Linked DNA regions of Homo sapiens: region 1 is linked to region 2. Evidence: fine-mapped expression QTL. Tissue or cell type: lymphoblastoid cells. Region 2 holds a variant in brackets; the other region holds the start of a gene. All regions are shown on one strand. Distances are between the middles of the regions. Region 1 holds the start of CBR4 (carbonyl reductase 4). Region 2 holds the start of LOC107986200 (a long non-coding RNA gene).

What was found.
Region 1: CBR4 starts here. The variant in region 2 is fine-mapped to the expression of CBR4 in lymphoblastoid cells (GTEx, PIP 0.98).

Annotation. Positions count from the first base shown.
Region 1 is chr4:169,007,632-169,012,878 of GRCh38, forward strand. CBR4 (carbonyl reductase 4) reads right to left here and starts at 2,624. Exons shown (of 5, transcript NM_032783.5): 1 at 2,317-2,624; 2 at 5-125. The coding sequence starts at 2,458. CBR4-DT (CBR4 divergent transcript) reads left to right here and starts at 2,798. Exons shown (of 2, transcript NR_185919.1): 1 at 2,798-2,825; 2 at 3,153-3,429. RefSeq lists enhancers at 1,625-2,574, 2,674-3,003.
Region 2 is chr4:168,963,074-168,968,320 of GRCh38, forward strand. LOC107986200 (a long non-coding RNA gene) reads right to left here and starts at 3,865. Exons shown (of 2, transcript XR_001741450.1): 1 at 3,820-3,865. It also overlaps a transcript of CBR4 not described here. The variant A/G (reference allele first, on the strand shown) is at 2,941.

The DNA.
Region 1 (5,247 bases), 45 kb after region 2:
CAACCTGTTAATACCAGCTGCATTTACCAAGAAATTTACTCGACCTAAATGTTTCTCCAGCTCTTCAAATGTATTTTGAACATCATGTTCTTTAGCAACATCACAGCTAAATGCCAAATGATCTCCTACACAACAAAGTTAAATAAGAATTACTTATAACTCAAATTTTAAATTTACTCAATACACATTTGTTAAGCATCTATCTAAGATGGCAGGCCTGTGCTAATCTAGAACCTAAAGATTAAAAAAGTAATGTCATGAGGCCTGGCTTTCATAGAGTTGGTCTAATGAAACTGGGATGCGGGAACAAAGAGGAAATAAAGTACTACTACAGAAAGTTAATTTTAAAATTTTCTTTTTAATCAACAAAGGGGGGAGGGCTTTTTCAAGTTATAAAGGCTCTGTAAGATTCATCTAATATTTATAGCTTTAACACTGAATTCATGCTACCCAATTCGACAGTCTTCTGGGTTTTATATTCCTTTTTTGAAATTTATGTCTAATTCTGTCAGGTTTTTGTTGAATTAGTTTCTTTGGCCCTGAACGGGAACTCTTGGGTTTCTTCTTTTTAAGTGCTACGGATGCACTATGGCACATATATTATAACGACTATTATTCAAACCTGACCATCAGGAGAGATGAGACAACACAGGAAGCTATAAAAATGCTAAAACTACAAACCACGGGGGGAAAAAAACACTTTTTACTAAAAGCAACTGTTACTTACCACTTTTAAAAAATGGTTAAATGCCAAAAAAAAACTACACTTCAAAGGAAAACAAAGCATTCCCTATGTAATCTACCATTTTAATACTCTAAAATGTAGGATTGTTTTTAAAAGCTAAAACAATTCTTTATTTTCTGTCTGACCTTGATAAATATGCTTACACCAACACTACCCCATCAAGCCTTTGGAAACAGTAAGCGACCCGGGGAATTATACTTTCTAGATGAAAACCAATCACTCATGGAACACGATTCAAAGGAATGCAGGGCCCAAAAGCATCCTGTGTCTCTCTTACTCTTGGTTTTCACCCGAAGACTTGTGTCCACAACCACCTTTGAAAGCCCAACTAATGGCTTCAATCCAGTCCAGCAAACACTGATGGCTTGGGGTGACACAGTAAGGGTCACCACTCTTCCCCTCCTTTGTTAGAATGGTAAGGAATATGAGCTTCAAGAAGCATTCACTGACACTCTCCCTGACCTATAACTTACAGAATCTTTTTTCTTTTAGAGAGCCCAATAGTCTCCCAACCAGCACTGAACAGGTGATACCAAACCGATCAATAATGTTAACTTAAAAATGAACAGCCACACCTGGCGTCTATAGTCCCAGGTCCTTGGGAGACTGAGGCGAGAAGATCTCTAGAGCCAGTAAATCAGGAGTTGGGGTCCAGCACGGGCAACATAATGGGAAGCCCTCTCAAAAAAAAAAAAAAAAAACCAGATACACAAAAACAGTAAGAGCCACAAGACGCACCCCTAGGCCTCTATTCTCCCCATGCCTCCCTGATAGTAAATGAAGTATAATTTTGTCCATTCTGGTGATTAAACAAATAGCATCTTCGGATCTAACGTCCTATTTCTCCCTAAACTCAATGAAGAGTTATATTCACAAAATGACTAATCCATTCATAATAAGCCGGAAATAAAAAACCCTGAAGTTTAAATGCAATAAAAAAGAATTTGGCAGAACAAAGTTCAATTGTCCATTTGCAAAACTCACCAAAACAATTTAATAACATTAAAGCAAACCAGGTATATCTCAAAACTGGCTGGTACTCAAAAGGGTTTCTCTATCAAACACTGCTTTGTGCATTCGCGCAGGGCCAAGGCACGGCCCTTGGGCAAAACTGAAGGGAGCCGTTGGTACCTGCACTCCCACCTTTCCTGCCTGAACTCCTTTCGACCCAGCCCTGTCTCCGGGGGCCGAGAACTCGCCCTTTTCCCTACATTAAAAGTAAACTGTTACGTGGCTCTCTCCCACAACAGGGAAGCTCCTCAGCGTTAGCACTAGCCGCAGGGCGGAGGGTGCGTATAGCGGGGCCTCAAAAGACTACGAGGTCTCAAAGAACACCCCAAGTGTTCAGCCCTCGGCGGCAAGCTGCGTGGCCGGCATTCTGCGAGGCATAGGGAGATCGCGGGTTTCTGCACGAGACGCATTCTACCCTTGGAACGGGAGAGCGCCTGCACGCGGCTACATCGAGTAACCCTAGAGCCCTAAAGGCCAGACCCGCTCTTTTTACAAAGGAGATTTTCTTTAGGCGCCTGGACCGCGGCCATACAACTGGACAACTCCAGTTTGGTACCTACCGCCGAGGTCACCGGCGGCGGCTTTGGCCCCTTCCAGGTTTCTGGCAATGACCGCCAGTCGGTAGCCTTTCCGGGCCATTAACTGGGCCACAGCTCTGCCAATGCCTCGGGAGCCTCCAAAAACAGCACACACTTTGTCCATCTCGGAGTCACAAACTCGGAGGAAAGAGGGTAGGGAGTGGGAGCCCCTCTCCAGGTTCCCTCAGGCTTTTAAACAACCGCGGTTCCAAAAAAAAAAAAAAGAAAAAAAAAGGCAAACCGCAAAAAAAAATAACGCCGCTCGACACCTCCTGCAGCCGCACAATAGTAATGCAAGACGCCGTGAAAAGGAGGAAGAGCTCGACGTCGCCGCGTCGACGTCATCACGCACGGACTCTTCCGCGCCACACCTAACAAATACGCCGACGAGAGCTCCCCGCCGGCGGAAGAATGGCCTGGAGAGGGCCTCGATGCTTGCTGGGACCTGTAGTCTTGACGCATGAGAGCAACTGGCGCAGGCGCGCTGCTCGGTGGGGAATGTACTTGTGGCACTGAGGGGGATCCTCTGTCCCCGCTGGGTCATATCAGTCGGGATTCGAGCCCCGGTGACCAATCGACCCGGTTTGTTCGGAACTGACAGGGTTGTCAAGACGCTGGGCTTTCCCTGGCAAACCAAGACGACCTGATCACGTAGTTAGAACCCAGAGAAAGCATTACTGGGCGTGAGCCGGTCGGGGCTCCGGTATTTGCCCTTCGCCCAGGTGTTGTTTTGGCTACAGACTTGATGTCCTACCTGTTGAAGAAGTCCCCAAGAATCGCACCCACACCAAAACCTACCCTACCTGTTCCTCCCCCAGGTTGCTGTAGAAATGGACCTCTACCCGCCCAGATGTTACCATTCATCGCGAAGGGTGTCGTGAAGATGAATGCCCTGTCGAACATCATCCAGCAGGAGGTCAAGGAATTTTAACTGAATGATTGAATAGTCTTGCAAGATCTATGAAACAAGCTTCGGCTGCTGTAGAGAAACAAAAATGGGTTCCTGCAATTCTAAATAAGATGTACTGGGTGCTCTGAGAGTTAATAAGCTAAAAAATTCAATGTTTGTTACAATTATAGTGTAAACAGAAAGCATTTCTGATACAATATTATTTTACTAGATTCAGAAAAGTATGAGCCATGGTCCCTACCACTAAAAAAACTACAACCCAGAACTACAGGACTAATACACATGAAACACTAGGAGGTATCCAAAATCATACTTAGTAAAATGCAAAATTATATTAACACAAGAGCTCCGAGAAAATGGAGATCAGTGAAGAATGAAGGGGTGCATGGAAAAGCTGGATTTGAGGGCTGGATGAGGTTTGAAAAAAGGAAAACAAGAGCAAAAAGTCTATAAATAAGCAAGTTGAGCATTAATTTAAATTTGTTATTCCTATTCCATTTAGATCCAAAAAAAGATTTGAAATGGTTTGCAAAAATACATGAGTATTTGAATTTAAAAGGCAAAGAGGACCACTGCCCCTTCTCCCACAAGGCCAGAACAATAAATTAGGTCAGTGGAAAAAATACGAATAAAGTCATGCTATAAGAATCTATTTAGTATTAAAGAAGAGATTCATAAACTTAGAGTTTCCTGCCAGCGAAAGCAACAAAGGAAATATAATTACAAGTGGTAATTTCTGTAAGAAATCAGCCTCCTGGTTATGCAGCAGAGAAGCCTGAGCAAAACTCCCTCCTCATAGGTCCTCCTAAATGGCACACTAAGCATTGTAGTAGACAGTGAGCTTCATGAAAAGAAAAAGAGATTGTAAGGCTGTTTTCATAGCATCTATTAGACTTTATTAAAAGCAAATACAATAGGAAGTTAAACAATATAAGCAAACAGTCACACATAAAAATTGTGTCTTTGAAACAATATATGTTTGAAACAATGAGGAAACAAGCCTGAGGAAATTTGGGATGGTGCTATATTATAGTCAGCTTTAAAGTCAGGTGCCAAGCATTAAACAGGCCTTTAACTGCAGAAGTAATAAGATAAGAGCTGCATTTAAGAACTATTAGCAGGCCAGGCGTGGTGGCTCATGCCTGTAATCCCAGCACTTTGGGAGGCTGAGACAGGAGGATTGCTTGAGTCTAGAAGTTCAAAACCAACCCAGGAAACACAGCAAGACCCCCACCCCCCCGACCCCCATCTCTACAGAAAATACAAAAAAAAATTAGCTGGACATGGTGGCCTACCTGTGGTCCCAGCTACTCGGGAGGCTGAGTTGGGAGGATCATGTAAGTCCAGGAGGTCAAGGCTGCAGTGAGCCATGATTGCACCACTGCAGTCCAGCCTGCATGACACAGCAGGACCCTGTCTCAAAATAACAGTGTTCTAAAAAACAAACAAACAGTTTCCCAGTGATGTAAAAATGGGTCAGATCAAATTTGTCTATTCACTTTCCTACTATACACTATGCAATCTTGGAAAGAAAAAACTGTTTTACATAAATTACCAATATAAGGGTCAGCCTAAATGCCAACTGTATTCCTGCACCTTAGGTCAAACCAGAGAGGTTTATCTTTTGAACAGTTCTCTCCATTTGCTAGGAAAATGATTATTTTTTTTTCTACACATTGTTATTTTAGCAAAAAAAAATGGTTTTTAGATCTATGCCATCTATCATGAAGATCACTAACACATGATATGAGGTGACATTCAGAATTCTGAAAACCTTCCAACTTTTCTCACTGTATATATACTGTAAATGGATAAGCTGGGCTTTTTATTCAACACATACCTCAGGTTAAACCTCAAGGTTATTATTTATTTTTTTTCCCTCTTAATACAATATCACCACTATCCCGGGTGAGAATACATCTATCACAGCACATCACCCATTAGCTGAGAAGGTTACAGCAGGGGAAGTTTCTCTGTAAGCCCCTGATAGTGAAGTGAGGATC
Region 2 (5,247 bases):
TAAAACAGAATTTTAATTCCAGTATTTCAAAATCCATGTTCATTCCACTGAAACTAACGGAAAGGACTGAGGAAGCACTCAGAAAGATTTGGATGGTCAAGCCCTGACTTAAATTGTGGTTGATTTCAGCACAACTGACTGCCAAAAGCCAGTTTTATCCTGATGTTATCATAGCACCTCAGCTAGGAAAAATTAAAATGCTAATAATTTTTAAAATCCAGATACTTCATAAATTAGTCAGATGTTCTTCAAAAAGGTGGGTAACTGTTGAAAGCAGAGTTACTTACTCATTCAGAGAAGATAACAGAACACAGATGTCTTATGCCACAATGGATTGACAATTAGAGCACCTGAGTTCCCAAGAACATTAGCAAATTCAGAAACTCCTGTATAAATCTTTTTTTTTTTTTTTTTGAGATGGAGTCTCACTCTTGTCACCCAGCCTAGAGTCCTATGGTGTGATCTCAGCTCACTGCAACCTTCGCCTACTGGGTTCAAGCAGTTCTCCTACCTCAGCCTCCCAAATAGCTGGGATTACAGGTGCCCACCGCCATGCCCAGCTATTTTTGTATTTTTAGGAGAGACAGGGTTTCACCATGTTGGCCAGGCTGGTCTCGAACTCCTTACCTCTGGTGATCTGCCCACCTCAGCCTCCCAAAGTGGTGGGAGGCATGAGCCACCGCGCCCAACCTCCTGTATAAACTATTAATAGCTACTGTACCATCAGCCACAGAATAGGTTGCTGAGGGATGCTCCAAGACCAAAGAAACAAAAAGCGCCTATGGGAGTATAATTACTGTGTCTCCATGCACAATAAAGATTAGCTGGTTGTTCAAAAACCTTTTTTTTTAATGTCATGCCCAAGAACAGTTGGGGAACATCCAAATCCAATCACAATGAATGGCAGTATTCCCAGGATGGAATAACTAAAATGCAACTGACAGGAAATATAGATCATCAGTAGTATAGTAACCCATCAAGCTAAATGCATAAATGGCATCCAGCACGTGGGAAATTTTGCTCTGACCAGCATGATCAAGCAAGCAGGTATATTTCTGTGGAAATGGCATCTGAGCCATCACAGAACAATACTCTGACAATATCATTCAACTACACTCCCCTTGCTTGTGTTGCATGATTAGACAACTGTCTGGTTAAAATTTAGGCTGTTGTAGAAAACCAAGGTCTGAGTATGCATATGTTCTCTCAAACTCTCTTCCCTTTAACCTCAGCTTTCTTGAGGCCACTAAGTTTTGTCAAAATCAATTGATTTTCTTATGTCATAATGCCAGACACAGAGCAAGGCAAGGAAAATAAAAAATAAAGACGACCTTCAATCGAAACACACAATCCAATGGAAACAAGTAAAGCCTAAAAAGGTATTTTTCTCCCCACAAGCCAATGCACCTTCTCTCTTTGGTAAGCAGTGGTAAAAATGTCATAGAATAGTATGCAATACTCTTCATATCAAAGAAACCCAGCCACTATAACAACCACACAGAAGTCACTATCAAGAGAATGAGTATCAGCTGTAATTCCCCAAACTGAAGTATAAACATTAATATAAGAAATAACTCTAATGGAGGAGAGGACAAGGAAAACTTCTTGGATGATATGGTATTTGAGAGTAGCCTTGAAAACTAAGATTTCAATAAGCAAGAAAAGCTCTGTCAGGAAAGAAGGGTCTCCAAGGTTGAAGAAACATTGATTTAGTAAGTCAACAAATATTTATTGTGCAAGTATGTGTAGATCACTGTGTTCAGCACTTTGAGTTACCATGAACCAGACTCTAAGGCTTATATTTCATTGGTCAGCTTTCAGTCACATAGCCACACTTAGCTTTAAGGCAGTTTGGGACATGTTTTTTGTTTTTGTTTTGGTATCCATGTATCAAACTAAAACTTTGCAGATGACATGACTGTATATTTAGAAACCCCATCATCTCAGCCCCCAATCTCCTTAAGCTGACTTCAGCAACTTCAGCAAAGTCTCAGGATACAAAATCAATGTGCAAAAATCATAAGCATTCCTATACACCAATAATAGACAAACAGCCAAATCATGAGTGAACTCCCATTCACAATTACTACAAAGAGAATAAAATACCTAGGAATACAACTTACAATGAACGTGAAGGACCTCTTCAAGGAGAACTACAAACCACTGCTCAACAAAATAAAAGAGGACACAAACAAATGTAAAAACATTCCATTCTCATGAAGAATCAATATCGTGAAAATGGCCATACTGCCCAAGGTAATTTATAGATTTAATGCTATCCCCATCAAGCTACCACTGACTTACTTCACAGAATTAGAAAAAACTACTTTAAACTTCATATGGAACCAAAAAAGAGCCCACATAGCCAAGACAATCCTAAGCAAAAAGAACAAAGCTGGAGGCATCATACTACCTGACTTCAAACTATACTACAAGGCTACAGTAACCAAAACAGCATGGTACTGGTACCAAAACAGATATATAGACCAATGGAACAGAACAGAGGCCTCAGAAATAACACCACACATCTACAACCATCTGATCTTTGACAAACCTGACAAAAACAAGCAACGAGGAAAGGATTCCCTATTTAATAAATTGTGCTGGGAAAACTGGCTAGCCATATGTAGAAAGCTGAAACTGGATCCTTTCCTTACACCGTATACAAAAATTAACTCAAGATGGATTAAAGACTTGAATATAAAACCTAACACCATAAAAACCCTAGAAGAAAACCTAGGCAATACCATTCAGGACATAGACATGGGCAAAGAATTCATGACTGGAACACCAAAAGCAATGGCAACAAAAGCCAAAATAGACAAATGGGATCTAATTAAAGAGCTTCTGCACAGCAAAAGAAACTATCATCAGAGTGAACAGGCAACCTACAGAATGGGAGAAAATATCTGCAATCTACCCATCTGACAAAGGGCTAAT[A/G]TCCAGAATCTACAAAGAACTTAAACAAATTTAGAAGAAAAAAACAACCATATCAGAAAGTGGGCAAAGGATATTAACAGACACTTCTCAAAAGAAGACATTTATGCAGCCAACAAACATACGAAAAAAATGTTCATCATCACTGGTCATCAGAGAAATGCAAATCAAAACCACAATGAAATACCATCTCATGCCAGTTAGAATGGCGATCATTAAAAAGTCAGGAAACGTGGCTCACGACTGTAATCCTAGCACTTTGGGAGGCCGAGGAGGGCGGACCACGAGGTCAGGAGATCAAGACCATCCTGGCTAACAGGTGAAACCCCATCTCTACTAAAAATACAAAAAAAAAAAAAAAAAAAAAAAGGCCAGGCGTGGTGGCAGATGCCTGTAGTCCCAGCTACTCGGGAGGCTGAGGCAGGAGAATGGTGTGAACCCGGGAGGTGGAGCTTGCAGTGAGCCGAGATCGCACCACTGCCTTTCAGCCTGGACGACAGAGCGAGACTCCGTCTCAAAGAAAAAAAAAAAGAAAAAAGCCAGGAAACAGATGCTGGAGAGGATGTGGAAAAATAAGAACTCTTTTACACTGTTGGTGGGTGTGTAAATTCCTTCAACCATTGTGGAAGACAATGTGGCGACTCAAGGATCTAGAACCAGAAATTCCATTTGACCCAGCAATCCCATTACATTATACCCAAAGGATTATAAATCATGCTACTACAGGGCCGGGCACAGTGGCTCACGCCTGTAATCCCAGCACTTTGGGAGGCCGAGGCGGGCGGATCACAAGGTCAGGAGATCAAGACCATCCTGGCTAACACGATGAAACCCAGTGCCTACTAAAAATACAAAAAACTAGCCGGGTGTGGTGGCAGGTACCTGTAGTCCCAGCTACTCAGGAGGCTGAGGCAGGAGAATGGCAACCCGGGAGGCCGAGCTTGCAGCGAGTCCAGATTGCGCCACTGCACTCCAGCCTGGGCAATGGAGCAAAACTCCATCTAAAAAAAAAAAAAAATCACGCTACTATAAAGACACATGCACACATATGTTTATTGCGGCACTGTTCACAGTAGCAAAGACTTGGACCCAACCCAAATGTCCATCAATGATAGAGTAGATTAAGAAAATGTGGCACATATACACCATGTAATACTATGCAGCCATAAAAAAGGATGAGTTCATGTCCTTTGCAGGGACATTGATGAAGCTGGAAACCATCATTCTAAGCAAACTATTACAAGGACAGCAAACCAAACACCGCATGTTCTCACTCATAGGTGGGAGTTGAACAATGAGAATACATGGACACAGGGCGGGGAACATTACACATCGGGGCCTGTCAGGGGGTTGGGGGCTGGGGAAAGGATAGCATTAGGAGAAATACCTAATGTAAATGACGAGTTGATGCGTCCAGCAAACCAACATGGCACATGTATACCTATGTAACAAATCTGCACATTGTGCACATGTACCCTAGAACTTAAAGTATAATTTTAAAAAAACAGGGAGTTCTATTATTATGAAGGAAAGGAATAATGGACCTTGGAAAACAACCAGCAGTCTCTGCTACCTAGGAAACAGGTCATTGAAAACAGAAATAAGCCAAAAGAAATTTCTAGGATGGTGGTGAAGGAAAGTCCCACTTTAAAAATTGTGCAGCACACTAAAAGCCATTCAGTCTGTACTGGAGCAGGTGGATGGGGAGTAGGCAAGAGGGGGTACTAAAAAGTGTATCTCAAACAAACAAAAACTGATAGACCATGGTATTGAGAGAAATTCTAGAGTGCTGTTGAGTTTGAAGACAGAATAATAATAGACACATTTCAAACTACACAAATATAAAACAAAGCAATTATTAATGCCAGGAAATCTCCAAAAATGAGTATGGGAGGAAACATGATTATAGGATACTCCATGCCTCAACTGTTGTGGTAGCTCATCTCCAAAGACGGCCCTCAACACTACCTGATCTTTATACTCTCTTCTAACCACCTCACTCTCTCACTTTCCATAATGACAAATTCAAACCTCCTCTACTCTCCTCAAACACTAGTGCCTTTCCTTTGCCACACCAAAAGCCAGCCAAGTAATTTCTTAGAGAAAATAAAAGTCATCATTTGAGGTTGGTAATCGTGAATTTAGCATAAAACCAAACTGCCCTTTTTTATGACTTTCTAACATAGCCCTTATATTTTCTACAGGAACAAAATCAAAAGTTTATCATGTAAATTATGGTTTTACCAAACAAGTGTAATAAAAATGCAAGGGAGAAAAGGTTTGTAGGGCATTGCCAAAGTGTGTTACTGA